Linked DNA regions of Homo sapiens: all the other regions are linked to region 1. The links come from fine-mapping of genetic effects on gene expression. A gene starts in region 1. Each other region holds a variant in brackets. All regions are shown on one strand. Distances are between the middles of the regions.

The links.
Region 2: its variant is fine-mapped to the expression of RELT in whole blood (TOPMed, PIP above 0.99).
Region 3: its variant is fine-mapped to the expression of RELT in whole blood (TOPMed, PIP above 0.99).
Region 4: its variant is fine-mapped to the expression of RELT in whole blood (INTERVAL, PIP 0.96).
Region 5: its variant is fine-mapped to the expression of RELT in whole blood (INTERVAL, PIP above 0.99).
Region 6: its variant is fine-mapped to the expression of RELT in whole blood (TOPMed, PIP above 0.99).

The regions. Positions count from the first base shown.
Region 1 is chr11:73,373,846-73,378,919 of GRCh38, forward strand. RELT (RELT TNF receptor) reads left to right here and starts at 2,554. Exons shown (of 11, transcript NM_152222.2): 1 at 2,554-2,654. RefSeq lists silencers at 2,274-2,583, 2,614-2,903, 2,994-3,073 and an enhancer at 3,239-3,533.
Region 2 is chr11:73,540,546-73,545,619 of GRCh38, forward strand. All of the region lies in intron 1 of FAM168A (family with sequence similarity 168 member A), which reads right to left. Among named protein-coding and RNA genes, the nearest start is that of FAM168A, 55 kb to the right of the region's middle. The variant G/A (reference allele first, on the strand shown) is at 3,008.
Region 3 is chr11:73,557,327-73,562,400 of GRCh38, forward strand. The region is part of intron 1 of FAM168A (family with sequence similarity 168 member A); the gene reads right to left. Among named protein-coding and RNA genes, the nearest start is that of FAM168A, 38 kb to the right of the region's middle. The variant T/C (reference allele first, on the strand shown) is at 3,072.
Region 4 is chr11:73,395,133-73,400,206 of GRCh38, forward strand. RELT (RELT TNF receptor) reads left to right here. Exons shown (of 11, transcript NM_152222.2): 10 at 1-153; 11 at 312-2,342. The coding sequence ends at 359. Among named protein-coding and RNA genes, the nearest start is that of RELT, 21 kb to the left of the region's middle. The variant G/A (reference allele first, on the strand shown) is at 2,508.
Region 5 is chr11:73,411,422-73,416,495 of GRCh38, forward strand. FAM168A (family with sequence similarity 168 member A) reads right to left here. Exons shown (of 8, transcript NM_015159.3): 5 at 1-115. Among named protein-coding and RNA genes, the nearest start is that of RELT, 38 kb to the left of the region's middle. The variant A/G (reference allele first, on the strand shown) is at 2,360.
Region 6 is chr11:73,590,795-73,595,868 of GRCh38, forward strand. The region is part of intron 1 of FAM168A (family with sequence similarity 168 member A); the gene reads right to left. Among named protein-coding and RNA genes, the nearest start is that of FAM168A, 4.8 kb to the right of the region's middle. The variant T/C (reference allele first, on the strand shown) is at 2,802.

The DNA of each region.
Region 1 (5,074 bases):
CTCCAGGCTTGTACTGTATGTACTTCCTTTTGGAATTCTAGCACAGCCAGCAAGCAGAGTGGCACCCACTACCTTTGGTCCATGACTCCAAGGCAGTCATCTACTCAGACCCCTGCATACAGCCACACTGTGGTGGCTCTGATTCTGTGACCCAGGATCCCCACCCCAGGCAGGGCCTGGCTGGGGCATGGCACCTGTACCCCTGCCTCCAGGTCCCCATCACAGCTCGTCCCAGTTTACTGGGACCTTGTGCTGTGTACCTACAATGAGGTGCACACATTCTCTGGGCCCACTTGCCCAGCTGTACCATGTGAAGTTCAACAAGATGGTCTCTGAGGTCCCTGAGCTCAGGGATTCCAGTGCTGACTCCATGGGTTCAGTTGAGATGCCAGGATTTTATAAAGCCTGTGATTCTGAGAGTCCTTTGTTCTCAAGCCTGTGGTTCCCCAAGCTCCATAAAAAGCGAGTCTAAATCTTTCCTGTGGCTTCCACAACTCCTTCCCTGTCTACTCACTGTGGAGCAACCCAGATGCTGGTAGACTCTCAGGGAGGAGCCCACGTCACAGTGGTTTCAGGGTCAGAGCTGGCTGCAGGAGGAGCTGGCGCATCCACCCAGCAGTAAATAATAATTAGGCTCCCTCCTAACCTGGGGGTTGCAGGAGCGAGAAGTGTTTGGGCTGTGGCCCCAGGAGACCTACTCTATGGAGCTGCTGCCAGGGCAGCCAGGTAGCCGCCTCCCACAGAGAACTTCAGGCAACATGTCTGGCACCCCAGTTTTCAGATGAGGAAACTGAGTTGGGGGTGGATTTGATGAAAACCTCACAGAGAGCTGGTGGTAGAGAGGGGCCTGGACCCTCTCTGGGATGTCTGATTAATAGCCAGTGCTCCAAAAAGCATTTCCCCATTTAGTTTATTGATTGAGACAAGGTCTCACTCTCTCACCTAGGCTGGAGTGCAGTGGCACGATCGCGGCTCACTGCAGTCTCAACTTCCTGGGCTCAAGTGATTCTCCCACATATTTTTGTAGAGACTGGGCTTCATCATGTTGCCCAGGCTGGTCTCGAACTCCTGGGCTAAGTGATCCTCCCAACTCAGCCTCCCAAGGTGCTAGGATTACAGGTGTGACCACTACACCTGGCCTTCCCCATTTGGTTTATTGAGTGACGACACCTGAAATTGCCACCATTTGAACTCTAGAACCTAGAGCTGGGGTGTAGATGGTCCCCTTACAAAGAAAACATTTCCAGGAGTGGAGGCATTCTGGATGCTCTGGCCTTCCGTAGGCTGGGATGTGGGACCCTGGAAGAACCCCTGCCCCAGCCCTGGAGGTCTCCATTGACATATGAGGGTGCTGATGTCATGATCCTGACATCAATGACCTGTAGCTCCTTATGCCCTTCCCCCACAACCTGAGCATGACCCAGGGAAATGAAAACTCATCCCCTGCTCCCCTCCCCATGCGGTGTCCAGTTCGCCTCCTGGAATCTCCTGGACCCTGGGGACCTGACCTTTTCCGTCTCCTAGCCCCTGGGTTCAGATTCTATGACTGTTTAGAACCCCACCCCCAGCCATCTATCCCCAGCTGACTTATTTACCTTCCTTTCTCCATCTCTGTCATGGGCTGTGATTATCCTGACCCCAGCCAGGCCTCTGGCCCAGCACTAGGTCCTCCCTGGTGTCTCAGTCTCCCATCAGCCCTACTGTCCCAGGAGGACCGCCTGAGATCCCCTGAATAGTACTGAGAGGGGGAACGGGCCACTGAGCTGCTCCCTCCAGTCCTGGCACACCCTGTAGCACAACTCCAGGGGACACGATTCGGAGTCGGAATACAGTGTGAATACTGCCTGGAGTTTGTGATGACTGGCATTGGAAACTGGCAGGGTGGGATGGCTGTAGTAGGGAGGGGGGCACTGAGTCACCTGTCCTGCTGGAGGGAAACTAACTACCCTGGCACAGAGAAGTGGTGCGGGGAGTAGGGGAGTGGAGGCAGGAGACGCCTCCTGGAGGATTTCACTAGGCCTTGAAGGATGTGCCGAAGCCCACCGTGTGGGCTTCCTTTATAGACTCACCTTCACCAGGCCTTTTCGCCAACTAGGTGAGGGTTTCCAGGGTTGGGCCTGGGCCTCGTCAACAAAGCAAAGTGAGGTTATTCTTCCTGGCCACCAACTGGCAGGAGGAAGATGAAGCCCAGAAAGGGGCAGAGGTGGCTCTAGTTACACTGGCAATGCTGAGAGGACCCAGAGGAGTATCTCAGTCTCCAGTCTCTTTATCTTGCTTCGCACAACTCCTTGCTTGGTTCAGAGCCTTGAAGAGGCGGATACAAGAGGCCCTCTGGGCACCGCCGCCCAGTCCCGCGCAGCCCCCTGCAGTTCCCAGGGGCGCGAGAGAGGGCGACGTAGAGCAGCACCGCCCAGCGGCAGAGCGGCGAGCCCCTCCGCGGCTCGGGGTGAGTCGGGCGCGGGGCGCAGACCGCGCTCTGACGTCGGGGGCGGAGCGGCCGTGACGCGCGGGGGCGGGTCTGCGCACCTTCCCGGCCCAGCCGGCGATTCATTCAAAAGGCGCGCAGGCTGCGCGGCTGTCCGGGCGCTCGCCGAGCCGGGCCGCGGCGCCGAGTCGAACGGGGAGCCGAGCTGGAGCTGCCGCGGCGCAGCCAGGTAAGGAGGGCGCGCGGAGCGCCCATCCAGAGTCTGCTCTCCGCGGCCGGGCCAGCGGGATACGGACCCTAGTGGCGCCCCCTGCCTCCCCGTGTCTCTGAGGAAGTTCGCGGGCTCGGCGGATGCGGCAGCCCGGCCGCGCGCCCCCCCACCCCACTCCTCCCGCCTCGCGTCCTGTCCCGGCGCCTTCCGCGCACCGGCCACCGCCAGTCTCCGAGCCCCGTGACCTGCAGGTCCTCCGGCCGCGACTCCGGGCCGGCCCTGCGTGGTGGCTGTCGGGGGGCGCGCGGGGAAGCAGCGGAACTTGCGGTGTGAGGGGCCGGCGGGGCCCGGAGCGGTCCCCGGCCCGGGAAACTTGGACCGAGACCAGGTTGTGGTGCGGGCTGGACGGCGGCGCCTCGGCGCGGCTGCGGCGCGGGGCGGCCAAGGGGGGGTCTGGATGGTGTCAGCCCGTGACTGTGGGTGACACGGCGCGTGAGGCGGCCTGGCCGGGCGAACGTGTGGCTGGGACACTGGGCGGTGACGCCGGGCCGAGCGGGCGACACAGAGGGGCTCTGTGTGTGGGAGACAGGCAGCGTGTGTGCGTGTGTTGTGTGAGGGAAAGACCCGGGGTCACTGGGGTCACGAAGTGCGTGGCTTGGGGCGTGACCGGCGCAGGGCCAGGGCCACCCGTTACTGTGAGTGTGAAATAGAGGGAGAGGAGCCCAAGTGACTGAGAACGAGCCGAGCTCGCTGGCGCCATGGTGTGCGTGTGGGGTCAAGTGGTGTCAGTGTGTGTGTGTGTGTGTGTGTGTCTGCGCCTAGGGTGATGATGAGTAAGAGGCAGGAGGAGGAGGGACCGGACCTAGGACACCTTCCGGCAGATGTGGGGCGATGAGGAAGTTGGGGAGCCAGGAGACAAGGGTCTCCAGGACTGTCCCCACGAGGGCACCCCTCAGGAGTTCAGCTTGGTGAGGAGATGGACCCTGAGGGATAGGCCCTGGCTGAGGGAGAAAGCCGAGGCTGGGCAACATCTGGTGGGGTGGCCCAGATGGCAGCAGGGTAGGGGCCCTGTGGTAGTCTCAGCTTCCCCCCGCCCACCTGCATCCACACACTCACGCATCGAAGTCCCTACACCTGGCAAAGTTCTGCCCCTGTGTAATCTGTATTCTCAGCGGACCCGGACACAATCTTGTTCTCAGACCCCCCCGCCCCCCTCCCCCGCGCAGGCCTCAGTCTCCCCATCTGCACACTGAGGTGCTGGGCTTTGAATGGACTGTGAATCATCACTTTGGGATCCTCTATTGTTTTGGGTCAACTGCCTGTGTTCTCCCTTCCCTTCAGGCAGAAAGACTGCAGTGGGGGGTGGGGGCAGGCTTCTCCTGGGGACACAGCGGCCCAGGGGCTGCACTCAGGGGCTACTGATAGGGTTGGAAGCACAGCCTTCTCCAAAACTGGTCAAGGAAACGTTAGCCTCCCACCCAAAGGCTTCCTGGTCCTCTGTCACGAAATGGATCCATAGACAATATGGATCCCCAAATCCATAGACATTCACTTCTCTGCCTGGGTGTCCTTTCTTCAGTTCCTTGGGTTGGGGGAGAGTGGGGAGAGACTTGTTCCCCAGGAGTGGTCTCTGGTCTGGGAGGCTAAGTTCTTGCTGGAGAGCTGGAGCGGTACCCTTTCGCCATCTGGGCAAGACCCTTCTGAGGCCCCTTCTCCCGTATGAAGGTCTGTGGGGTTCATGCAGGGTGGGGTGGAAGCTGAGCTCCCTAGTCTAGGAGAGGGTGGCACTTGCTGTAGAATCTGGAAGTTCTGTCTTCTGCTGTCGTCCTCTGAAAATGCTGATTACATTCTAGGGGTGGGGGACAGGGTGGGGGACAGTGTCAGGCACTGTTCTGAACACTTCATGGTGTTCTGTCTTGTTGAATCTTCGCAGTGATTCTGAGATGTAGTGACTGTGTTTCAGAGAAAGGAACTGAGGATCAGAGAAGCAAAGTGACTTGGCCAAGGTCATACAGAGTCAGGACAGTGCCAGGACTGGAATTCAGGTCTTCTGACCCCAGAGACCAGTGAGATGCTGGGAGAGAGGATCACCCACCTTCCTAATAACTGCTCATGGCTTTCCTGGACTTCTGTCTCTCAAACTTGGGCTAGTAGGCGTGGCCTAGCCAGGGCATTACATTGTGAGTTCTAAGTATGATGTGTGTGTGTGCACACATGTCTGGAACACTGGGGATGGGTGGGTTACATGGTCTTCCTGTTCCTCCCCAGACTTCACTCCCAACCAGACATCACCAGAAAGTCCTGTCCCCTGCCTTCTAGAGCCTGGACCTGGCTTTGGGGGTGTCCCCATGGCTTTGAAGAGTGTATGGAGTTAGCAGCACAGCCTAGGGGTAGCAGGGAAAATTGAGAGTCCCAGGTGACCTTCATCATACTTGAGA
Region 2 (5,074 bases), 170 kb after region 1:
AAAATGCACCTGGCTCATTCCTACCTCTGGATCTTTCTACTTGCTGTTTCCTCTGCTGAACTCCCTTCTATTATATCTTCTCATGGCTTACTACTTAAAATCATTCAGGACTCTGCTCAAATGCAATCTCTTCAGAGAGGCTTTTCTTGATCATCATCCCAACATATGGTGTTTCCTTATCTTGCTTTATTTTTTATTATGGCCCTTACATTATATTCTTTATTAACATGTTTGTTTACTGTCAGTTTCCCCCACTAGAATGAAAGACTTATGAGGGCAGGAACTTTGTCTTGGTTACAACTGTATCTCCAGCACTTTGAGCAGTGACCACTAGAGCAGGTGCTCATCAAATATTCATTGAATAAATAATTAAATTAGTCCGGGTACGGTGGCTCGTGCCAGTAATCCTAGCACTTTGGGAGGACAAGGCAGGAGAATCACCTGAGGCCAGAAGTTCAACACCAGCCTGTCCAACATGCTGAAACTCCCTCTCTACTAAAAATACGAAAATTAGCTGGGTGTAGTGGTGCGTGCCTGTAGTCCCAGCTACTCGGGAGGCTGAGACAGGAGAAGCACCTGAACCTGCGAGGTGGAGGTTGCAGTGAGCCAAGAATGCATTACCGCACTCCAGCCTGGGTGACAGAGTGAGATTCCATCTCAAATAAATAAATAAATAAATAAGCTCACAATCACAGAGCTCTATAATATTAGTGTAAAAAGGTAGTTGCTATATAATAGAAAGACCACAGGCTTTGAGATCAGGCAGAACTGCATTCAACTTTCTCACTGATTATGATAGTGTAACTTTAGACAAGTGCCTAAACTTCTTTTTTTTTTTTTTCTTTGAGACAGAGTCTCACTCTGTCATCCAGGCTGGAGTGCAGTGGCATGATCTTGGCTCACTGCAAGCTCCTCCTCCCGGGTTCACACCATTCTCCTGCCTCAGCCTCCCGAGCAGCTGGGACTACAGGCGCCTGCCACCACACCCGGCTAATTTTTGTATTTTTAGTACAGACAGGGTTTCACCACATTAGCCAAGATGGTCTCGATCTCCTGACTTGTGATCCGCCCACCTCAGCCTCCCAAAGTGCTGGGATTACAGGCGTGAGCCACCGCACCCGGCTCCTAAACTTCTTTAATCTCCTCATCTGTAAAACAGGTATAAATATCTAGGTCCCATAGATTTGTTATGATGATTAAATGAGATAAACTTATGAAAATGCTTTGTGTAAACTATAAAGTATTATAGAATGTTTATGATGTTTATGATGATGATAGGAGAAAGTTTAGAGACAATCTACTTAAGCCCTTCACTTTAGAGATCACCCCAAGGCCCTAAAAGGTAAAGTGAACTATCCAATGTCCCAGTTATTTAAAACCAAACCATAATTAGACTCTAGGACTTCAGATGATCACACTAGGAGACTTGCTTGGCATTACCCAACACAGATTACCTGATCTCTGGTACTCCACTTTCTCTAGGTTCTTCCTCTACCTCACTGGCTACTCCCTTGATCTTTTCAACTTCTCTATGTTAGAGTGTCCAGAGTTTGGCAGTCCGATCTCTTCTTTGCTCTAAGTACACACATTTCCTAGGTGAGCACATCTACTCCATGGCTTTATATATGCTAATTACTCCCAAATTTATTATCTCCAACTTGAACTTCTCTGAATTTCAGACTTGTATATCCAACTGCCTGAGATCTTTTGGTTATCTAATAACCATTGTAAAAATGTAATATGTCCAAAACCAAATGTCTAACTCCTTCCTGCAAACCTGCTCCTCCCACTGTTTCCCAACTCTATAAGTGGCAATTCTAATCTTGTAGTTGCTCAAGGCAAAAACCTCCGAATCTCCTTTGACTACTTTCTTACTTTCATAATCCTCATCTAATCTATCAGCAAATTCTGTCAGTTCTACTTTCAAAACACATGCTGATTCTAACCATTTCTTGCCATTACTACACTGACTCAAGTCTTCATTATTGTTTTTAACTATTGTAACAGCCCCTGCTTCTATCCTTGCCATCTGCTTATCCTGTCTCTCTCTTCCCAGAAGCCAAAATGATCCTTTTAAATAAAGTTTGGAGCATGTAACTCCACTCTGTTGAAAACCCTGCAATGAGTTATCATCTCAGAGTAAAATACAAGGTCATTACCATGACTTACCAGGTAATCTAGCTCCCTTTATCTAATCTTACCCCATAGCACTCTCCTCCTTGCTCCATACTACAGTAAAATTAAATTTTAGCATCAACATTTGTGTTGTTTAGAAACCATTCTGAGGGGGCCAAAAGCACAGACACCAAGAAGAATATGCAAGCCTTGGATCGCTTAAGCTGAACAACGGGAAAATTCTCCTCTTCTCGTTATTCTTTGAAAAACCAAGTACATTCTCACTTCAAGGAGTTAGTACTTACAGTTCTCTCTGCCTAAAGAATTCTTCCCTCAAATTATCAATATGACTTGCTCCTTTATTTCATTAAGATCTCTACTCAAATTTCACCTCATCAGCAAGGCCTAAGTTAACTGATTATATCTAAAATAGCTCCTACCCTTTCAATCACACCCTTTTCCCATACACTGCCTGTTTTTTTCTATTACTAGGACACAATTGAAAGCACGGACTTTATTTTATTCACTGCTGTATCCCCGGAGCTAAGATCATATTGTAAGTATAATCAATACTAGTAATCAACTTCAGCCATTAATTGTTCTTTTTTTTTTTTTTTTTTTTTGATGGAGTCTTGCTCTGTTGCCCAGGCTGGAGTGCAGTGGCACAATCTCAGCTCACTGCAACCTCCGCCTCCCAGGTTCAAGCAATTCTGCCTCAGCCTCCCAACTAGCTGGGATTACAGGCACCCGCCACCATGCCCAGCTAATTTTTCTATTTTTAATAGACACGGGGTTTCGCCATGTTGGCCAGGCTAGTCTCAAACTCCCGACTTCAGGTGATCCACCCACCTCGGTCTCCCAAAGTGCTGGGATTACAGGCATGAGCTACCGC[G/A]CTCGGCCCATTAATTGTTCTTTAACTATATCTTAAGTCTTCAATCGGGTCTTCCTCTAAACAGACTGAATATTCTTTGAAAATGGCCATTTTCTAGATATGCTAACTGAGTACTTTCAATTTAACCTGATAGAAGTAACCAAAAGAAGGAAAAATAATAAGATTAAGCTATATTTATTTCCTCTGGGACTCTCTTATAATCAACTAACAAATCAGTATTAATAAGCTCTTTTGGGTGCAGAGTACCATCTTAATAAAGAAGGATATCACCAAGCTAGGTAGTAAAGCACAAAGAGATACATAAAGTGGCTCACATCTATAATCCCAGCACTTTGGGAAGCCAAGGCAGGAAGATCTGCTCAAGCCCAGGAATTAAGAGACCAGCCTGGGCAACATAGCAAGACTCTACCTCTACAAAAAATAAACAAAATTAGCTGGGTATGGTGGCACATGCCTGTAGTCCTAGCTAGTTGGGAGGCTGAGGCAGGAGGATCACTTGAGCCCAGGAGTTTGAGGCTGCAGTGAGCTATGATCCCACCACTGCAATTCAGCCTGAGTGACAAAGCAAGATTCAGTCTCTTAAAAAAGAAAAAAAATAGTAACAAGGTGAGCAATGAGCTAATGAAAGATGTTCAGCATCATTAGCCACCAGGGAAACGCACATCAAACCAAAATGATATACCATTTCACATTGAGTAGGTTGGCTAAAAGAAAAAAGACAAATAACAAGTGATTACAAGGATGTGGAGAAGAAAATGGAACCTTCATACACTGTTGGTAGGAATGAATGTGAAGTGGTACAGCCACTGTGGAAAACAAGTCCTCAAAAGGGTTAAACATAGAGTTACCACATGCTCTAACAACTCTACTCCTAGATGTATACCCAAGAGAAATAAGAAACCTATGTCCACATAAAAACTTATATGCTAATGTTCACAGCTACATTACAAATAATAGCTAAAAGTGGGAACTATCCAAATGTCCATCAACTGATAAACAAATAAAAGGTGGCATATACATATGATGAAATATTTAGCAATAAAAAGGAATGAAGTACTGATACATGTAACAACATGAATGAACCTTGAAAAAATATATACAATTACATATATTATATATAATTATATATAATTATATATTTTATATGTAATTATATATAATTATATATTTTATATGTAATTATATATAATTATATATTTTATATGTAATTATATATAATTATATATAATTATATATTTTATATATGTAATTATATATCATATATAATAAATTTATTATATATAATATATATTAAATATATAATATATAATATATAATTATATATATTATATATAAAATATAAAATATATTATATAATATATATTATATATAATATAAAATATATTATGTAATATATAATATATTATATATAATATATATTATATAATATATTTTATATATAGTATATATAATATACTATATATATAGTATATATAATATATATATATTTTTTGGAGACAGTCTCCCTCTGTCACCCAGGCTGGAGTGCAGCGCCACAATCTTGGCTCACTACAACCTCCACCTTTTGGGTTCAAGCAATTCTCTTGCCTCAGCCTCCTGAGTAGCTAAGACTATAGACATGCACCACCACATCCAGCTAATTTTTGTATTTTTAGAAGAGATGGGGTTTCACCATGTTGGCCAGGCTGGTCTCTAACTCCTGACCTCAAGAGATCCACCCATCTAGGCCTCCCAAAGTGCTGGAATTACAGACGTGAGCCACCACACCCAGCCGAACCTTGAAAATATTAAGCTAAATGAAAAAAGCTAGCTATAAAGGCCACATATTATATTATTCCATTTATATGAAATATCCTGAATAGGTTAGTGATTGCCTAGGGCTGGTGGAGAAGGGGACAACAGAGGGTGATTGCTAAAGGGTACAAGTTTCCAATAGGTAACGAAAATATTCTAAAACTGACTGTGGTAATGATTATGCAACTCTATATATACTAAAAACCACTCAACTATACAATTTAAATGAGTGAATTGTGTGGCATATGAATTATATCTCAGTAAAGCTCTTTA
Region 3 (5,074 bases), 180 kb after region 1:
AGCTGGGGTAGGGGAGAAATGAGAGTTACTGTTTAAGACAATAGTGCCACCACTCCTGGCTAAGTTTTTTTTTTTTAATTTTTAGCAGGGATGGGGTCTTACTATGTTGCCTAGGCTGGTCTTGAACTCCTGAGCTCAAGCGATCCTCCTGCCTTGGCCTCCCAAAGTGCTGGGATTATAGGCATGAGCCACCATCTCTGGCCAAAATTAAGTTATTAATTTAAAAATCCTGTATTCATGAATTGGAAATTTTAATATTGTTAAGATGTCACCTCCAAAGCAATCTACAGATCTTATCAAAAGTCCAAAAACCTCTTTTTGTAGAACTGGAAGAGCCAGTCCTCATATTCACATGGAATTGCAAGAGGCCACAAACAGCAAAAATAATCTTGAAAAAGAACAACAAAGTTGGAAGACTCACACTTTCCAATTTCAAAATTCACTATAAAACTATGGTAATCGATACAGCATGGTACTCGCATAAGGACAGGTATATAGACCAATGGAACAGAATCACAAGTCTAGAAATAAATCCATACATCTCTGGCCAATTAATTTTCAACCAACATGCCAAGACTAATCACTAATCAATGAGAAAAGAAAAGTTTCTTCAACAAATGGTGCTTGGACAACTGAATATCTACAGGCAGAAGAATGAAGCTGGACCCCTACCTCAAACCACATATAAAACTTAATTCAAAATTAAAGACCTAAATATAAGGGATACAACCATGATAAATCTTCATGACCTTGGATTTGGCAATGGATTCTGAACTATGACAACAAAGTAAGCAATCAAAGAAAAAATAAACTGGACTTCATCAAAATTTAAAATTTTTGTGCATCAAACGATATTATCAAAAAAGTGAAGAGGCCAAATGTGACAGCTTACACCTGCAATCCCAGCACTTTAGAAGGGCCAAGGTAGGAATTCAACATCAGCTTGGGCAAATAGCAAGACACTGCCTCTACAAAAAATGTAAAAAAGAAAAATTACCCAAGCATGGTGGTGCACATCTGTAGTCCTAGCTACTTAGGAGTCTGAGACTGGAGGATCACTTGAGCCCAGGAATTCAAGGCTGCGGTGAACTATGATCATGCCACTGTACTCCAACCTGGGCAACAGAGCAAGACCCTGTCTCTAAAAAAAAAAAAAAAAAAAAAAAGTGGAAAGACAACCCACTGAATAAGAAAAAATATTTGGAAATCATATATTTGATAAAGGTCTGGAATCCGGACTATATAAGGAACTTTTATAATTCAACAACAAAAAGGCAAAAAAAAAAAAAATTTTAATGGGCAAAGGACATGAATAGGTATTTCTCTAAAGGTATACAAATGGCCAACAAGTAGATGAAAAGATGCTTAACATCATTTATTAATCATTAGAGAAATACAAGTCAAAACCATAAGATATATTATGCCATACTCATTACAATAGCTATTTATTTTTTAAAAAAGAAGAAGGAAATAAGTATAAGCAAGGATGTTAAAAAATATGAACCCTCAAACATTGTTGGTGGGAATGTTAAAATGGTGCAGCCATTATGGAAAAGTCTGGCAGCTCCTCTGCTAGTTAAACATAGAATTACCATATGACCCAGCAATTCCATTCCTAGGTATACACTGAACTAAAACAGGTACTAAAATAAATACATCTACCCACATGTTCATAGCAGCACCTTCACAATAGCGAAAGATAGAAACAACTCAAACGTCCATCAGTGGACAAACTGTAGCATATCTATACAATGTAATATTACTCAGCCATAAAAAGCTTTAAAAAGTAATGAAGTACTAGCCGGGCGTGTTGGCTTATGCCCGTAATCCTATCACTTTGGGACGCCGAGGCAGGTGGATCACCTGAGGTCAGGAGTTCGAGACCGGCCTGGCCAACATGATGAAACCCTGTCTCTACTAAAAATACAAAATTAGCTGGTCATGGTGGCAGTCACCTGTAATCCCAGTTACTCGGGAGGCTGAGGCAGGAGAATCGCTTGAATCCAGGAGGCGGAGGATGCAGTGAGCCGAGATCGCGCCACTGCATCGAGCCTGGGCAACACTGGCAGTGACCCAAGATCATACCACTGCACTCCAGCCTGAGCGACAAGAGTGAAACTGTCTCAAAAAAAAAAAGTAATGAAGTACTGATACATGCTACAGCATGAACATCAAAAACATTATTCTGAGTGAAAGAAGCCAGATGCAAAAGGCCACACATTATATGATTTCTTTTATATAAAATATTTACAATTGGTAAATCCATAGAGATGAAAAGCAGATTAGTTGCCGCCAGGGGCTAGGAGGGAATAGGAATGGGAATGACTGTTTAGTGGATACAGAACTTCTTTTTAGGGTGATCAATGTTTTGGAACTAGACAGAGATGGTTGTTGCACAACACTGGGAGTGTATTAAATGCCACTAAATTGTTCACTTTAAAGTGGTTAATTTCAACAATGATATATAAATTTCACCTCAATCCCTCAGTCAATAATGAGAATCCTCCCTTCACACAAACTTCCCAAAAATTGTTTTGTTATCTTTCTTCTTCCCATTGCCAAGTTGTAATCAAGCATTGCTTGATTCTTGGCAGGAAAAAAAACAGCACTGAGGAGTTGCCACAAATGAGAACAATGTAAACAAAATCCTCAGTACCACTACTGCAGCATTAAATAAATCCAAGCAGTTATATCCACAGAATTAGTCTCACTTAAGAAAAGGCCAATGAAGGTTTTTTTCTTGTTGTTGTTTTCTGAGACAGAGTCTCACTCTGTCTCCCAGGCTGGAGTGCAGTGGCATGAACATGGCTCACTGCAGCCTCGACCCCTCGGACTCAAGCGATCCTCCCAGCTCAGCCTCCTGAGGAGCTGAGACTATAGACATGTGCCACCATGACCATGCCTGGCTTTTTTTTTTTAAAGAGATGGGGTCTCACTATGTTGCCCAAGTGGTCTTGAAATTATGGCTTCAAGCATTCCTCCCACCTCAGCCTCCCAAAGTGCTGGAATTATAGGCATGAGCAACCATGCCCAGTCTCCAATGAAGGTACTTTTGCTAAGGTGTGTGAAGA[T/C]ACCTGTTGCTGGGATCAGGAGACATGAAAAAACTAAGAAAAAAAATACTGAGAAAAGTTTTCAATAGCTTTGTAAGCCTTCAGAATGTAAAGTACATTAAGAAATAAAAACTTAAATGCAGTGGGTACAAACATGGCAAATCTGAAAGCTAAACCTGACTAAGGCTATCAACCTGCCATGTGCTAAAAACAAATGTACTCACTCAGAAAAACTGAAAGAGGTACTACATACCTATTAAAACAGCTAAATTTAAACAGTGATAATACTAAATGCCGACAAGTATGCAAAGAAACTGGACTTCTCATACATTTCTGGTAGGAATGTAAAATGGTACAGACACTCTGGAAAATAATTTGGCAGTTTCTTATAAAACTAAACATGCAGCCAGGCATCGCTGCTCACACTTGTAATCCCAGCACTTTGGGAGGCCAAGGCGGGCACATAGCCTGAGACCAGGAGTTCAAGACCAGCCTGGCCAACCTGGTGAAAATGTCTCGACTAAAAATACAAAAATTAGCCAGGCATGGTGGCACACACCTGTAGTTGCAGCTACTCAGGAGGCCGAGGCTGGGAGAACTGCTTGAACCTGGGAGGCAGAGGTTGCAGTGAGCCAAGATTGCGCCACTGCACTCCAGCCTGGGTGACAGAGCAAGACTCTGTCCCAAAAAAAAAAAACAAAAAACAAAAAGACCGGGCGCGGTGGCGGTGGCTCATGCCTGTAATCCCAGCACTTTGGGAGGCTGAGGCAGGCGGATCACCTGAGGTCGGGAGTTCGAGATCAGCCTGACCAACGTGGAGAAATCCGTTTCTACTAAAAATACAAAAAATTTGCCAGGCGTGGTGGCATGTGCCTGTAATCCCAGCTACTCAGGAGGCTGAGGCAGGAGAATCGCTTCAACCTGGGAGGTGGAGGTTGCAGTGAGCCGAGATCACGCACCATTGCACTCCAGCCTGGGCAACAAAAGTGAAACTCCATCTCAAAATAAAAAAAGTTATCCTTCTCTCCTAGGCTTCCAAGAAATTCAGGGGTAAATTTGTAGTTCACCTATAGCAACTGGGGAGACATATATATATATATATTATTCTATTTTCAATAGTACTCAGGGTTTTTCTTTTTTAGGTTATTTTATTAGATTACTTTTGTAAACTACTCTCAATCCCTTGTGGAATAAATACAAAGACCACACAAACGTGGTAAATGCTACTCTGTCCCTAATAAGTACATTAAAATTATTCCATAGAGAACTAGAAATGGCATAGCCATTCACTCTTTTTTTAAGCATCTGATCATATAAGTAGAGTCATTCACTTTTTTGTTTTTTAATTCACAAACCAAGATCTTTATGAGGCCTCCCTTCTTTTACTGAAATAACTTTTACTTTTATATCTGTATCAACTAAGGGGTAAAAGTGACACTTTAGTCACTTTGGACAATAAAAATAAATTTTTAGATAATTTTAATACCCTTTTATCCCATACGATTCTTGATCTTGAATTTCAATTCTGCAATCTTAGGACTGTGGTTTAAAACATTACAGGAGGATTTTCTTTTTTTTTTTCCAAAGACTGAGTCTCACTCTGTAGCCCAGGCTGGAGTGCAATGGTGCAATCTCAGCTCACTGCAACCTCCACCTCCCAGGTTCAAGCAATTCTCCTGCCTCAGCCTCCTGAGTAGCTGGGATTACAGGCGCACGCCACCACGTCCAGCTAATGTTTGTATTTATAGTAGAGATAGGGTTTCACCATGTTGGTCAGGCTGGTCTCAAACTCCTGACTTCGTGATCCGCCTGCCCTGGCCTCCCAAAGTGCTGGAATTACAGGCGTGAGCCACCGCACCCAGCCTACAGGGGAATATTTACAGCTGTATGACCTCTCTTCATCTCTCTGACCCTCATCATAAATGAGGATAGTAACACTTACGCTGAAAGGTTCTTTTGGGGATTATATAATATATGCAAATTATCTAGCAGGTCCTTATAAACAGTATCATTTGACTCAGACC
Region 4 (5,074 bases), 21 kb after region 1:
TCTGAGGTGAAGACCATCACGGAGGCTGGGCCCTCGTGGGGTGATCTCCCTGACTCCCCACAGCCTGGCCTCCCCCCTGAGCAGCAGGCCCTGCTAGGAAGTGGCGGAAGCCGTACAAAGTGGCTGAAGCCCCCAGCAGAGAACAAGGCCGAGGTGAGAGTCAAGGAGAAAGGCATCTGTTGGCACCTGGGCCAACCCTGACCGAAGACGGGGCAGGGGTGGAAGTGCAGCGGGCCCTAGGCAGGGGCCACTTTCCTGGAGCCAGAAGCCAGCCCCTGACTCAGCTCTGACCCCTCACCCCTGCCCACCAGGAGAACCGCTATGTGGTCCGGCTAAGTGAGAGCAACCTGGTCATCTGAGGGGCGGTCTAGTCTAAGGACACTGCGGCCCTGCCCTGGGAGGTTCCGAAGGCTTCCTGGAGGAGGTGGAGCTGCAGCTGGGACTGTGAGGACCGAGAAGCAATGGCCCAGCAGACGAGACAGCAAAGACCAAGGCCTGGAGGTGGGAGCGTCTGCCCCAGTGAGGAGGCAGGTGGCCGGCGGGCACTGTGTACAGGAGCAGGCTGAGCCCCGCCCCTGGCCCTGCTGCCATGTTGCTCCCCTGAAGGATGCCCCGACCCCCGTGCCTGCCCTGGCTGGATCCTAGGAGCCCACGGGATTCTCTGTATCATCAGAGGCTGGGCTTGGCAGAGGGGAGGGGCCTGTGCCCGTCACCCCTGGCCCCATTCCTTGGTAATTAGCCACACCCTTGCCTCTGTACAGGGCCCTAGAGCAGATGTGCGTCCCCCTCCTCTTCCAGCAGGTCTATAAAGGGAAGGGGTAGCAGAAAGTCCTGGGCTAGGAGAGTGAGTCCCTGGGTTCTAATCTTGGGCACATCTGTGGCCATCGCTGGGTCCATTTTTCTGACTGTGAAGTAAGGAGAGACGTCTCAGTACCCAGGGCCTCTTCAGCTCTTTGTAGGTTCTGGGCTGGGTTGTGGGGGACTGGGGAGCTGGGCTCTACCATCCCTCCCATTAGTAGCTTTATCCAGCCCCGTTTTTGCTGCTTCCAGGGCCTCTGCCTTCAAGGCCCCCATGGGGCTGTCCATCCATGGCTCTGCCTACGGAAGGGGCTTAATGCATGTGCCTGCCCCTCCCCCAGCTGTTTTTAATGAAACTGAAAAAATAGACTTGATCCCGGCAGGACTGTGATACAGAGCCCTAGCCTGCCCAGCCAGCCCCAAGATCTCAGGAGCTTTAGGGAGAAGACTTGGTGGGGCTGGAGCACACCTTGGGCCTCAGTGGTTTCTGTGTCCCTGTGGTGCCAGTGCTTCTGGGCAGTGCAGGCGGCTGCCAGGCCCAGCCCTGACTTCCACTCTGGCTCAGCAACCTGGTTATTTATGTGGGGCCGTGCAGGCATGGGCCCACTGCCTGTCCATCCTGTTTCTCTTATTTATTGAAACTCACCATTGCCCTATCCTTGTGTCTCCACCCCCTTCCATGTGTTGAATAATAAAAGGTGGGAAAGTGCTGTCACGAGGAGCTCCTTTTCTCTGTGCCCTTCCCAGCTTATCCGCCTGTTCCACTTGTACCTGTCCAGCCCTGCCCTGTGTTGGGCACCGTGACAGGCTGCCCTCCCCTCACAGTTCCTGCACCTCAGCAGCCAGGGAAGCAGGGCCCAGAGGAGACCCATCAACTCATCTGGTTCTCACCAAAGCCCCTAGCTAGAGGCAGGGCTGTCCCACAGAAATAGTGTGAGCCACATATGTGACTTTAAATTTTCTGACAGTCACATTTCAAAAAGTAAAAAGAAGCAGGTGAACTTAATTTTTTTTTAACCCAGTCTATCCAAAATATTTTCATTTCAATATAAAATCAGTATAAAAAGTGTGAATGAGCTGTTTTTGCTTTTGCTTTGAAATCTGGAGTGTATCTTACACATCTTGATTGGAACTCAAATATTTCAAGGGCTCCATAGCCACGTGGCCAGCAGCTACCACACTGGTCAGCGCAGCACCTGAGGAAATGCACTGTGTGGAGCCCGGGAGGTAATTGGGGGTGAGGAAGATGTGCGGGCCAGGGAATGTGTTCCACAGAGAGGGACAGCATGTGCAAAGGCTGAGCACCAACACATAGTGGTCACCTGGGCCTTATGCCCAGGGAGCCTCCAAAGCATTCAGCTCCTGCTTGGCCAGTGTGGAGAGGAAAGGAGCCACAGGAGCGGGTGCTACACCCGGCAAGACAGAGCGTCTCCATCTAAAATTCCTAGGGCAAGCTTCCAACCCGGCCCAAGGGCCGCATGTGGCCCAGGATATGGCTTTGAATGGGGCCTAACACAAATTCATAAACTTTCTTAAAACATTGAGATGTTTTTGCTTTTTTCTTTTCTTTTTAGTTCTTCAGCTATTGTTAGTGTTAATATGCGGCCCAAGAAAATTCTTCCAATGTGGCCCAGAGAAACCAAAAGATTGGACACCCCTGTGCTAGGGTTTGGTAATGGGAAATGGGTCGGGGGCTTAGGGCCAGCTGG[G/A]TGGGGCAACAGGAGCAGTCCTGGGGGCACCTGTGACACAGCCATGGAGGATGTCCCATGCCATCCAGATGTGAAGGCCCAGAGCTCTCAGGAGACAGACCTGGAGACAAGAAGACCTACAGGCACTCAGGTGGGTGTTTAGGCCAGGACTGGGCTGGGAGGAAATGTCCTGGGGACGATGCCTGGGCTGCTCCAGGGCACCACAGAGAAGGCACTGCTAGGGAGGCAGGAAAGAAACCAGGGAGGGCAACGTCCGTGGCAGTGTCCTGGCAGCCAGGGGAGGGGTGGGCGCAGGGTGGGCTGCAAGGCCAGGTGCTGCTGGGGGGTGAGGAGGACTGCTCTGTGCCCTGGTGAGTGGCACAGGAACTTGGTGGGATTCGCCTAAAGGGAGAGGGGAGACCAGGGCCAGGGCCAGGTGGATTGAGGGAGACAGCTCCCTGCCGAAGCCTGGCAGGCCATAGCTGGGTGGGGCCTCAGGCTCTGGGGAGAGACAATTTTCAGTTAATTTAGGGTTTTATTGTTTGTTATGTTGTCTAAAGACGGGAGAGAGGGACACATTTAAACTAACGGCCTCAGAGAGAGGCTGAAGAACAAGAGTGACACCTGATGGAACCTGGGGAGGTGTGGAGAGGACCAGCCTGTGGGAGTCCCCGGCCTGTCTGCAGCAGGCACAGGGCAGCTATGGGGCGGCCATGCTGGGGCTGTCGGGAGGCCTGGCTTCACAGGGGGCAGGGGCCTTTCTCCTGAGCAGAAGCCAAGCTGGGGGCCTCCTCCTACCCTGGGCAGATGTGCTTTGGGATTTGACTCTCCTTGGGTACCTAGGGCACAGGTGTCTCTCTCCAGGGCTTTTCAGGTGGGCAGGAAGGGGAGGGACACCTCTGAAGATCCAGGAGATGTTTCACCTGCACCAGAAGAGGGGAAGGAAACAGAGGCTGGACATCAGGAGGGATGTTCTGGAGCAGAAAAGGATGCCAAAGTGTAGGACAGGGTGTCCATTGTAGGGGACTAGCAGGCATCACCAGTGTACCCAAATAAGTATTTCCTGCGGCTGCCAGAGTGTGTTTGGAGTCCCTATTTGCCAGCTGCTCAGCTGCATCTCAGGGTCTGGCCTCTCCACCTTGACTGGCCCTCAGCCTCCTTCCCCAGGGGAAGGCTGGGCTGTGGGGTCTAGATGCCCTCTCCACAGCCTGCCTGTCTCGCCTGGGCAGAGGTACATACACATGCAAGCCAGGGTGCACCAAGGCTGGGTGCAGGCTTCCAGGCCAGGGCTGAGCGCCCCCTCACAGTAAGCACTGTGCTCTCCTCCAGACTCCCCCTCCCCAATTTCTGCTTGCTGAAAGGTGTGGCCCTGGCCTGTTTCTTCACCTGTCCCTTGGGGTATTGAGGCTAGCTTGCAAGAGTGGGATGAAGAGCTGAGGGCTCAAGTAGGAGTGTGTCTGATGCCCTTGGTCTTCAGGGTCCTTACCCTCACCTGGAAGCTTTTCTGGCTTGTTCCATCTAAATCCCTGAAGCTTTGTCAGCGCTTGAGTTCAAGAGGCCCACGCGGAGGTGGGAGCTGGAGGACAGGGTGGGGTTCTGGGCTGACCACTGAGGGGAAGAGTTCTGAGCTTGACCTCTGTGCTCCACCCCTCTTCCCTATGGGCCAGAATGGTAGGGGCTGGGACCCAAGTCTCCACCTCCCCTCCTGCTCCTGGCCCTCAGCTCTGCCACTGTGACCTGGAGCTGAGCCTCCCTCTGGGAGAAAATCCCTTCCTGCACCGGAGAAACTGACTATGGTGACTCAGCCCCAACAATGCCTGTGGCCAGAGGTGCCCCCTCGGACACTGGGGGTGGGTTTCATATTGGATCAAGGACAGGAAGGGAGGCTGGGTGGAGGCACACGGTGAGATTTGGTGAGAGGCATTAGAGAGTAAGGAGGCCTAAAAGTTTTCATTTCAGCTGCAGTGTGAGCCAAGCTACTTGGCCTCTTTTGGCCTGTTTCCTTTCCAGGTGAGGAGGCTGAGTTCTTGGAGGTATAGCTATGGGGATGTGGAGCATGAACTGTAGGGGCCCGGCCCTGGGAAGGAATGGTGGACAGATAACCCAGTAAGAGAAGCCTGGGCCTGGGCTAGGGCAGTGGCTTCACCCAGAGGGGAGATAAGAGATTCAGATGATGTTTAGGAGGCAAAACTGATAGCACTTGATGGGACTGCTTTGGATGAAGGCGCCAGAGCCTCCCTCAGCTGTCCTTTTTCTGTAACCACAAACCACCAAGTGCCCCTTGGTTTCCCATCTGACAAATCCATCTTTTAAGAAAGCTCAGGGCGCTGGGTTCAGTGGCTCACACTTGTAATCCCAGCACTTTGGGAGGCTGAAGCAGGCAGATCGCTTGAGCCCAAGAGTTCAAGACCAGCTTGGGCAACATGGTGAAAGCCCGCCTCTACAAAAAAATACAAAAATTAGCTGGGAGTGGTGGTGTGCGCCTGTAGTCCCAGCTACTCAGGAGGCTAAGGTGGGAGGATCACTTGAGCCCAGGAGGTGGAGGTTGCAGTGAGCTGAGATTGCGCCACTGCACTCCAGCTGGGTGA
Region 5 (5,074 bases), 38 kb after region 1:
GCACTTCTGATTGGATACATGGCCGTCTGATAGGGGTTGGGTGATGGGGAGTAGGGGGGTGGAGCAGTGTTACTCTGGGTCGGTGGGACCTTGTATGGTGTCCCCGCAGTATATCCTGTACCAAGGCAATAAGAGAGACTTCCAGTTAGTTGGCAGAAAAGCATTGCTAGAAGGCAGCAGGTCCCAGTCACGACTCCCCAGACAAAGATGGGCTGAATCCAGGCTGGAAACAGAGATGAGAACAAACAGAGAACAGGGCTCCACCCAGAAAGCCCTGGCCCCAGAGGCAGCTCCCTCAGTCCTGGTGCACAGGGCTGCATGGATGATTCTGGGCATCTTTTCTTTCTCTGGGTCTCAGGGCTCTCATCTATAAAATAAGAGGCTAGAACCACATGGTCCCTTTTAGCTCTGACAGCCTGGGATTTGGAGCTGTCTGTGTGAAATGGGCAGGTGCACAGAGATGGAAACCCTCAACTCACTTGCTCTTTATTGCTACTCTACTTGCTTTTCTGTCTTCTCACACAGAATCCAGGGTATCTTTTTGCTGCTGTTTCTGTCTTTCTCTCTTTTGCTCTATTTCTTTTTCTCCTTATCTCTCTCTCTCTCACTCTCTTCTTGGACTTCCCTCCATCATGTTCCCTCCCCTCCCCACCAAGTTTGAAGGTGAAAACCCCATACAAAACACCATTCGGAGACCCTCATCTTCTGGGATGCTGACCATACAAAACACCATTCGGAGACCCTCATCTTCTGGGATGCTGACCATACAAAACACCATTCAGAGATCGTCATCTTCTAGGATGCTGAAAAACTTTGCTCTGCAGAGTTGGCTCCTCCTTCTCTCCTGGGCTCTAGGGGAAGGCCACCTCTGCCTGAAAATACCTGAAGTCAGGGATCACAAAGATTCACATCAACCTGGAACCTGGGCCATGTCTGTCCCTCAGCAGGATGGACAAAAGCTGGAGCTAAGAATGGGGCTGAGAAGTCAGGCCCCAAGAAGCTCACAATTGCCCATGTAAATAAACTGTGCTGCCTTTTAATCCTCCGGAAAAGAGTGACAGATCCTTTGTTCACAGAAAAAAACTTGAAACATGAGTCATTCAGGAACAACACTGTCTCCTTTTAGAATCACAAAATGGAATCGTTCTACGGAACCCAAGTGATCATCAAGGGACTCCAATCCTTGGACTTTACACAAGGGGATCCTGGGCTCAGAAAAGGCAAGTCTTTTTAATAACTTCTCCTAAAGACTCTAAACTCTTCTAAGTTGAAGGGACAGTGCCTGAGGACCTAGGCTTTGAAGCCCTGCTGGGGAGGTGCTGAGGTGGCTTCTTTCCTGTGGTTCCATCTTGGGTAAGTCTAGCAGACCTCACTGAACCTCTCTGGGCTTCAGCTCTTTCACCTATAAGATGCTCACCAAGGACCCTTTCAGCTCCGAGGTGCTGTTTCTATCATATAATAAGGGACTAGGGGCAGAGTGGAGGGAGTGCTTTATTGGAAGAGAAGACATCTAGTCTTCAGTCCTGGCTTTCCCCCTAATTTTTCATGACAATTGTCAAGTCTTTGGGCCTTAGTTTCTTATTTTGTAAAATCAGGTGGCTAAGAATGAAGATCTCTTCCTAAACAAAAATTCCATGGTTCTAAAGATCCTGGGTCTCTTCTACCTTAACCCCAAGTAAAAGCAAACTACCACATGGTCACAAATCTTTCTCAGTCCACATCACACCTCTTTGGCTTAGCACCCCCCTGCCCCTGATGACTCAGGAGGATAGGAGAGCTGCTGCACAGCTGCCACAAAAGTCAGCCTGTTCCTGGATTCACGTCATTTATTTTTTCACCTGCAGATCCATAGTTTTTTCCATAGTTTTGTGATCAAATATGCTTGGGAAATAAGTAACAATGAGGATAGAATGGAAAGTACATATGAAAGAGAGGGAAGCATGTTAAAGAGAAGTAGAAACTAACTGGAAGTGCAACTATGAGCTGAGTGAGAAGTCTAGAGCAGATTTCTCAAAGTTTCTAGATTATGGAGCTAATGATGAAATGTGGTCATAGGAGGAGAAGCAGATACTGTGGGGGAAGACAGGGAGACTAGCTTTGCAGATGTCTAGAAGGAACCATCTGATGTGTACGGAGACACAATTTACTTATCTATAAAATAAAGGGGTTTTATAGATAAACCAGAGATAGACATTTCCCAAATGTGGACAACGTACTATAGATCCCAAGGGATCTTAATAGTTGTTTTTGCCAAAGAAAAGGAAACAAAAGAGTTCTATAGTCCCATATGTAAAATAGAGATAAACAGTTAAGATTTTGTTTTTATTCCATGACCCTGAGAAGTTTTTAAAACAATAGG[A/G]TGGGCTGGATGTGATGGCTCTCACCTATAATCCCAGCACTTTGGGAGGCCAAGGCAGGAGAAGCACTTGAGACCAGGAGTTTAACACCAGCCTGGGTAACACAGACAGACTACATCTCTAAAAAAAGAAAAAAACTTAGCCAGGCATGGTGGCTGGTGTAGTCCCCAGCTACTTGGGAGGCTGAGGCATGAGGATGGCTTGAGCCCAGGAGTCTAAGGCTGTTGTGAGCCATGATCACAACACTGTACTTCAGCCTGGGTGACAGAGCAGGACCCTGTCTCTTAAAGAAGGTGGGGAGGTGAACTGTGAATCTCTAAGATGGGAGTATGTACAAGACTGTATTTTCCAAATTAATTTTACCACAGAATCTTTTATTCATACTATAAACATTTAAAACAATTAAATTTCAGCCATGTTTTTTGTAATTGAAGCTAGTTTTGGTAAACAAAGTTATATTGTAACACATCCACATCCATTCATTTACATATTGACTAAGGCTACTTTCCTGCTACAATGGTAGTCACTGACAGAGAGCATATGGCCTTTTTAAAAGCCTAAATATTTGGCCCTTTACAGGAATGTTTGCTGACCCCTAATTTAAAGGAATATATCAAGGTGTAGAGAAACCTAGCAGAGCTGAAAGCATCCCTTTTCTATGCAGGAGAGTAGGACACCCCTGAATCAGAAGGTGCCTGTTTCTGAAAGCTCTGTAGCACAGAGCCATGGTTATGAGCAGTCTGGAGACAGACTGACTGCCTGGGTCCAAACCCCCAGCTCTGAGACTTAATAGCTATAGGATACATCAGTCTCGCGTGTGATATGGGAACAGTAATGGTACCTACTTCATTGTGATAAATACATTAACTGTTAAGTAAAAAGCACTTAGAACAGTACCTGACATATTAGAAGCACTTTATAAAGATCAGCTATTATTATTTTCTCTCTCACTTTATAGGGACAGTAAGCTTCTGTCCTAAGGGTATGCAGGCAGAGCCTGGTCTGAGAGACTAAAGCTAATCTATGACTACTATGGTCTGTCCCAGCTTGGAACACAGACTCCAGGATTCTAAGATTCTAAAATGTTATGGCTTAAAATGCCATGATTTTATGATTCTTTAAAGTTAACAGGCCAAAGATGCTGATGACTTTCCTTTATGCTCCTGGAGAATGTGCTCTGGAATTTTTCTCTTCCCTGGGGAAGCTGGATTACCCACTGTATGCCACAAGGACAGCCATATTACAAAGTGGTGAGACTATCCCTCTGAGGAAAATCAAAAAGCTCCAAGAGACTGCAGTAGAATTTGGTTCCCACATCTAAGAATAACCTTGTCTGAGAATGTTTCCCTTTCTTCATGTTATGAAATGAGACACACACATACTCAGAATACAAATCAGTAGCCAAAACACCCTTGGCAGCCAAAGAGATGATGCTGCAGAAGAAGGCCTTGCTTGTTTGTCCAGACAGTCTGAGATAGAAGCAGAACTGCAGAGCTAGAAGACTCAGAGATCATTAAGACCAACGTAAACATTTCACAGATGAGATAATGAGTAGTTGCTGAAAGAGAGAGCTGTTTGTGGGGATCTAAGACTCAGTGCTACTTCCTCTAACCACAGTGGTTCTCAAGGTTACCATTTGTCAGGAGGATCTTCATGAGGCTGGAGAAACTGCCTGGGGGCCCTCATCCTAGGTTCTGTCAGTAAGTCAGGTCAATTCCTCTCAGGGAATATCCTCATTTGGACTAGACAGTATCAGAGAACTTCTCTAGTGCTGACATTCTAGGTCTCTGAGTATTTCAGAAGACTTTCATGAGGAAATCATTTCAGAGGACTTTCCATAATTTACTAGTGGTCCTGTCAATACTCTTGAGGAACACTGAAAATTCCCCTGGAGCTATAGCCTGAGCTTGGGTGACACAAAAATCAGGGTTTATTACTTTATGCATCTAAGTAAAAGAAGCTGTTGGGCTTGTTGCAAAAAAGTCTCACAGATTTTGCCCAAATGAACTTAGACTCAGTTCACTCACTGGAGGCCTGGCTATCCTGAAAGGAATTCTAAGTCTGAAGGTCACAGAATTAAGACTTTGGAATGTTGTGCCTGAAGGACATTAGAGGTTTATATTCAACCTCCTCCTTTTCCGAGAAAGAACCTGGAGCCCAGAAGGACAGATTTTCCCCAAATTGTACAGCACATCAGTACACAGCTAGGCCCAAAGTTCAGGGCTCACCCTGCCCTAGGCAGAGCTCTTGCTGAGTTAAAGTCTCTGTAGTCCAATCTTGGGCATTTAATATACTGGCCTTTGTTGTCCCCATTTCACTAAAGGCAATATCATGAAAGAAAAAATGAATTAGATCACTCGAAGTCCCAGCTCTGCCTTATAAAAGAGGCTTTGTTTATGATGTCCTATTCTTTCTCTTAGGTTCCTAACCATAATTTTAGAATCAAATGGGATAATAAAAAGAGTATGTACATTAACAAGATAAAACCTTTTCAGCGCTTTCTGCAATCCTTTTTCACTGTCATAAATCTTTTTCAGTTGTAGAAGCCCTACCACCTTCAAAGGCTTGATCCTTGCATCACGGATGCCTTTTAGACTAATTGGTTTATTGATCATCAGATTTATATGTCTGGACAAAATAAAGCTCTATGTCTGAATCTTGCTTTGACCCCTAAGACTCCTTGTTGGTAGCCAAGTGAGACAGTGATGAATCAGCAG
Region 6 (5,074 bases), 220 kb after region 1:
AGCTCCTCGGGTGATTCTAAAGAGTAGCCAGATACTACCTGTCTAAATAGGTTGAAGACTACTGATTAGGCTGGGTGCAGGCTCACGCCTGTAATCCCAGCACTTTGGGAGGCCGAGGCAGGCAGATCATCTGAGGTCAGGGGTTCAAGACCAGCCTGGCCAACATGGTGAAATCCCATCTCTACCAAAAATACAAACAATTAGCCGGGCATGGTGGCACGGGCCTGTGGTCCTAGCTACTCAAGAGGCTAAGGTAGAAGAATCACTTGAACCTGGGAGGAAGAGTTTGCAGTGAGCAGAGATCGTGCCACTGTACTCCAGGCCGGGAGACAAAGCGAGACTCTGTCTCAAAAAAAAAAAGAAGACTACTGATTTAACAGCTTAAAACCAGGAAGATTTATATGCAGTACAACAAAAAGAACAATGGCTCTGGAGCAAGGCAGATCAGGTTTTTAAATACGAGCTTTTCTTCTCTTACTAGCTATGTAAACAAATGCAAACTAGTTAATCACTATATGCCTCAGTTGCTTCAGTTTCTTCTTCTGTAAAATGATCACAATTCCTTATACGACACAAATATGAGGATTAAATTCTATCTATAAGGAAAAGAAAGCACCCAGCATACTGCCTGCCATAGACACTCAAATGTTAGGTACCTTTTGTCTTTCCCTGCTAATTCCCTACTTGTCTTATGGCCTAAGACAAATTACCCTCTTGAATCTTTTTATTCATTTATTTATTGAGATATAGTCTTGCCCAAGCTAGAGAGCAGAGGTATGATCATAGCTCACTGTAGCCTCAAATTCCTGGGCTCAAGTGATCCTCCCACCTCAGCCTCCAAAATAGCTATGAACAGAGGTGCACGCCACCACATCCAGATAATATTTTTGTTTTTTGTAGAGACTGGATCTCACTATGTTGATCAGATTGGTCTTGAACTCCTGGGCTCAAGCGATCTTCCCACCTTGGCCTCCCAAAATCCTGGGATTACAGGTGTGAGCCACTGCACCCAGCTACCCTCTTAGAGTCTTAATTTCTTCATCCTTAAAATGAAAATAATGCCACATGACCAACCTAAGAACTATATATAAAATGGCGCCATTATATTTGCATAAGTATAAATAGCATAGCTGTTATCTACTGATAGAGACATTTGCTATCAACTCAAAATAAAAGATAGAGGAAGACACATTAGAAAACTAAAATACTTAGAAAAATTATAAAACAGAGGCTAGAAAAGAAATACAAGTTAGCAGAAATCGTCAAGCTTGAGCGACATGATCAGAAGGCAAATCAAGATCATAATCTCAAGTAGCCAAGGATTGAAGTTTACTGTGAAAAATATATCATCTCAGGGTTCCTTCAAAATGTCTATATCTAAGAAAAAGCACAACCTATATCATCATAAAATAGGCATATTCTGAAAGGACCCAGACACCTGCCTAACTGGCAGGAGGAGGAGGTGTATTGGAACTTTATAAACTGAGGTTTTCTCAGAGTGTCTTCATACAGAAAATAATGGCTCATTTAATAAAATGTTAAACTTTTAGATAAACATAATTTGACAAAAAAATTCTATACCATTGTTTTCAATACTAAAGATATGCATAACTGTCCAAGGAAGTAAATTTAACAAAATAGAGAAAGAAATATGAACTTGGTTTAGTCTCTTTCCTCTTCAATATTTTACAACTTTGAGTTGATTTCTGTTAACGTACCAGGGGTCGGCCAGCTATGGCCCGCCCATGGCCTATTTTTGTATGGCCTGTGAGTTTTACATTCTTAAAACCACATAAAAGGAGGAGAAAGAGAAGGGGAGGGAGAAGAAGGAATGGGGAGAAGCAAGAGGAGGGGCTTCAGGAAGGAGAAGAACGGGGAGGGAGATGGGGAGACAAAAAGGAAGGGGAGTGGAAGGGAGGAGAAAGAACAACAGAGGCCATATGTGGCACAAAATATTTTCTACAAAAAGCATTTGCCAGCCAGGCATGGTGCCACATGCCTGCATTTGTAAGCACTTTGGGAGGCCGAGGAAGGAGGATCACTTGACCAGGACAACATAGCGAGACCCTGTCTCTACCAAAAAAAAAAAAAAGTGTTACTGGGTAATAGGACTAAAAACAATACTTATGCTTCTTTTTACTTTTTGTAATTTCTAGTTTTTATCATGAGCACACATTATTTAATGGTGGAAGAAATAAAGCTTTTTTAAAAGTTAAAAAATAAGAATAAGAATAAAGCAAGTCAGAAGAATATTTATCCTATAATTCTATTTATAAAAAGTTGCAAAGGTAAAAAATATACTGTTTAGGGATATGCACATATTTGGTAAAAGTATAAAGAAAAGCAAAGAAATGATTCACATAAAATTTAGGAAACTGTTTATCTCTGAGGGAGAGAGAAGATGGGAGATTCAATCAAGTAGGACCTCACAAGAGGCTTTAAAGGTACTAGAAATCTCCTTTTTGTTAAGCTGGGTAGCAAGTAGAAAAGCCTTCAATTTGTTATTCTTTAAGTTGTGGGTTTATGTTAAATATACTTTTATACATATGACATATTTTACAATTTAAAAAAAGGATATAAATGGGGATGACAAATTAGAATTTGGGGGCTGTAACCCAGACTTTTCCACTGACTGTGTAACCTTAAACAAGTCATTTAACCTCTCAGAGCATAATTTTTCTTCTTATTTTATTAATGAGGAAGCTAACAGCTAACATCTGTTTAGGACTTTGGCATTTAAAGAACTGTTTAAAGTTCCTAGACTGTAAACATGCAAATATGCATGAGATCATAAAACAAAA[T/C]CATACCTCATTAATAAATACCACAATACTAAGAACTCATTGGTAGGGCACACAAGGCTATTCACCATTCTAGCCTCTGCCTATCTTTCTAACAATAAAGGCAACAACTAATTTTTTTAATGTGTACTATAAAACATATTGTGTGAAATGCTTTCCATTGATTATCTTATTTAATCCTCAAAACAATCCTATGATGTTAATTCTATTATTCGCACTTTACAGATGAGCCCATTGTGCCCAACGTCACACAGCTAATAGTAAGTGGTAGACAGACTTCAAAACCCACATTTAACCATAGCATTCATTTTGCCTCACTTTTCTCACCGTATTTGTCTATCTTTCCCATGACACTGAAAGCTCCTTGACAACTGCTTTCTGTTCATTTTTATTTCCCCTGGCACTTAGCAGACATTCATTAAATAAATAAATAGTGAACAGATATTTCATATATGTACAGTGTTTTCAGGACATGAACTGGTTTGTTCCCCTTGACAGCCTTGTGAAGTATGAAAGTTTGATTGTGTGACAGGGTCTCATTCTGTAACCCAGACTGCAGTGCAGGGAAGCACGATCATGGCTCACTGCAGCCTTGACCTCCCTGGCTCAAGCAATCCTCCCACCTCCCTCCTGAGTATCTGGGATTACAGGTATACGCTACCACACCCAGCAAATTTTTTTTTTTTTTTGTGGAGACGGGTCTCCCTATGTTGCCCTCACTGGTCTCGAACTCCTAGGCTCAAGCAATACTCCCAGCTCAGCCTCCCAAAGTCTGGGATTATGGGCGTGAGCCACTATGCCTGGCCAGTTTTTTTGGTTTTTGAGGTTTTTTTGTGTGTGTATTTTTACCTTTTTAACCAAAGTTAAGTGTACAATTCAGTGGTATTAACTATGTTCACAATGTTTTGCAGCCATTACCACTAAATATGAAAGGTTTTTTGTTTGTTTTTTGTTTGTTTGTTTTGAGACAGAGTTTCGCTCTTGTTGCCTATGCTGGAGTGCAATGGCGCAATCGTGGCTCACTGCCCACCTCCCCAGTTCTAGCAATTCTCCTGCCTCAGCCTCCCAAGTAGCTGGGATTACAGGCACGTGCTACCAGCTAATTTTTGTATTTGTAGTAGAGATGGGGTTTTGCCATGTTGGCCAGGCTGATCTCAAACTCCTGACCTCAAGTGATCCACCCACCTCGGCCTCCCAAAGTGCTGGGACTACTGGCGTGAGCCACCACGCCTGGCCATCTGAAAGGTTTTTAATGACTTGACTGAAATCACTCAGCTTTCAAGTAGTAGAACTGGGATTTGAATCTGGGACTCAACTCCTAAACTCATGGGCTATTCGTTCCACAAAGGCTTCTGTCTATCAATACCTCCATCTGCTCTCTTCTCACCAAGATATCGGGAGGATCAAATGAGGTAAAGATACAAAAACACATTACTACTACACAGGTAACCACGGCTGTGGAAAAAAAAAATCCACCAACACATTTCTCCCAGGCACTTTTCATTTTGGGCTTTCAAAAGCTAGGGCTTTAATATAAACATCCCACCTCTAGACCAAGCCTGCAGATCTGCAAAAACAACGTCTAGACCTCAGAGTAAAGTTATGAGAGAAATGCTCACATTAGATTACAGTCTCACTGAATTACAGGTAACTGCTCAAACCTGATCTTTATTATAATACAGAAAGCTTCCTCATTACAAAACACTTTCAATTCAAAGGATAAGTCCAACGTTCCATCATTCTGCCCATTTTGGAGCTAAAAAAAAAAGATTCTAAATGGTATTTTTATATGCTCAATCGTGAAAGCCAAGGAAAATGGTTTGTTTGCGAGCTAAATTCTGAAGCTTGAACAAAAATAAAAAGAATTATTTCGATCCCAATGGTGCCAATTTTATCTTCTTTACATCCCTCCTCATTTTTTTTCAGTCTGAGCTCTAATCAACAGCCACTTTATGTTTAACATATTATCACAGTTAATGCAATTAGGTCCATAGAACTGTTTCTCTAAAGATGTTCCCTCCATTTGCACTCCTGTGTACCTTCCATTATCATCGTTCTGCCCTAAGAATGAGCATATCGCTAAGGTTTAAATCGAATTTCTGATGAATAGGTGGAGATGCTGTTTCTGTAGTTAATACAATGCGACTACATCAACATCATTCCCCAAAAAATAAAATAAAAATGACTCAATATGCTTTATTTATTCACATCTGACAGAATTCTGATCACCTGAATTCCTTTGGAAGAAAATTCAATCTTTAGAAATACAGTCCAAT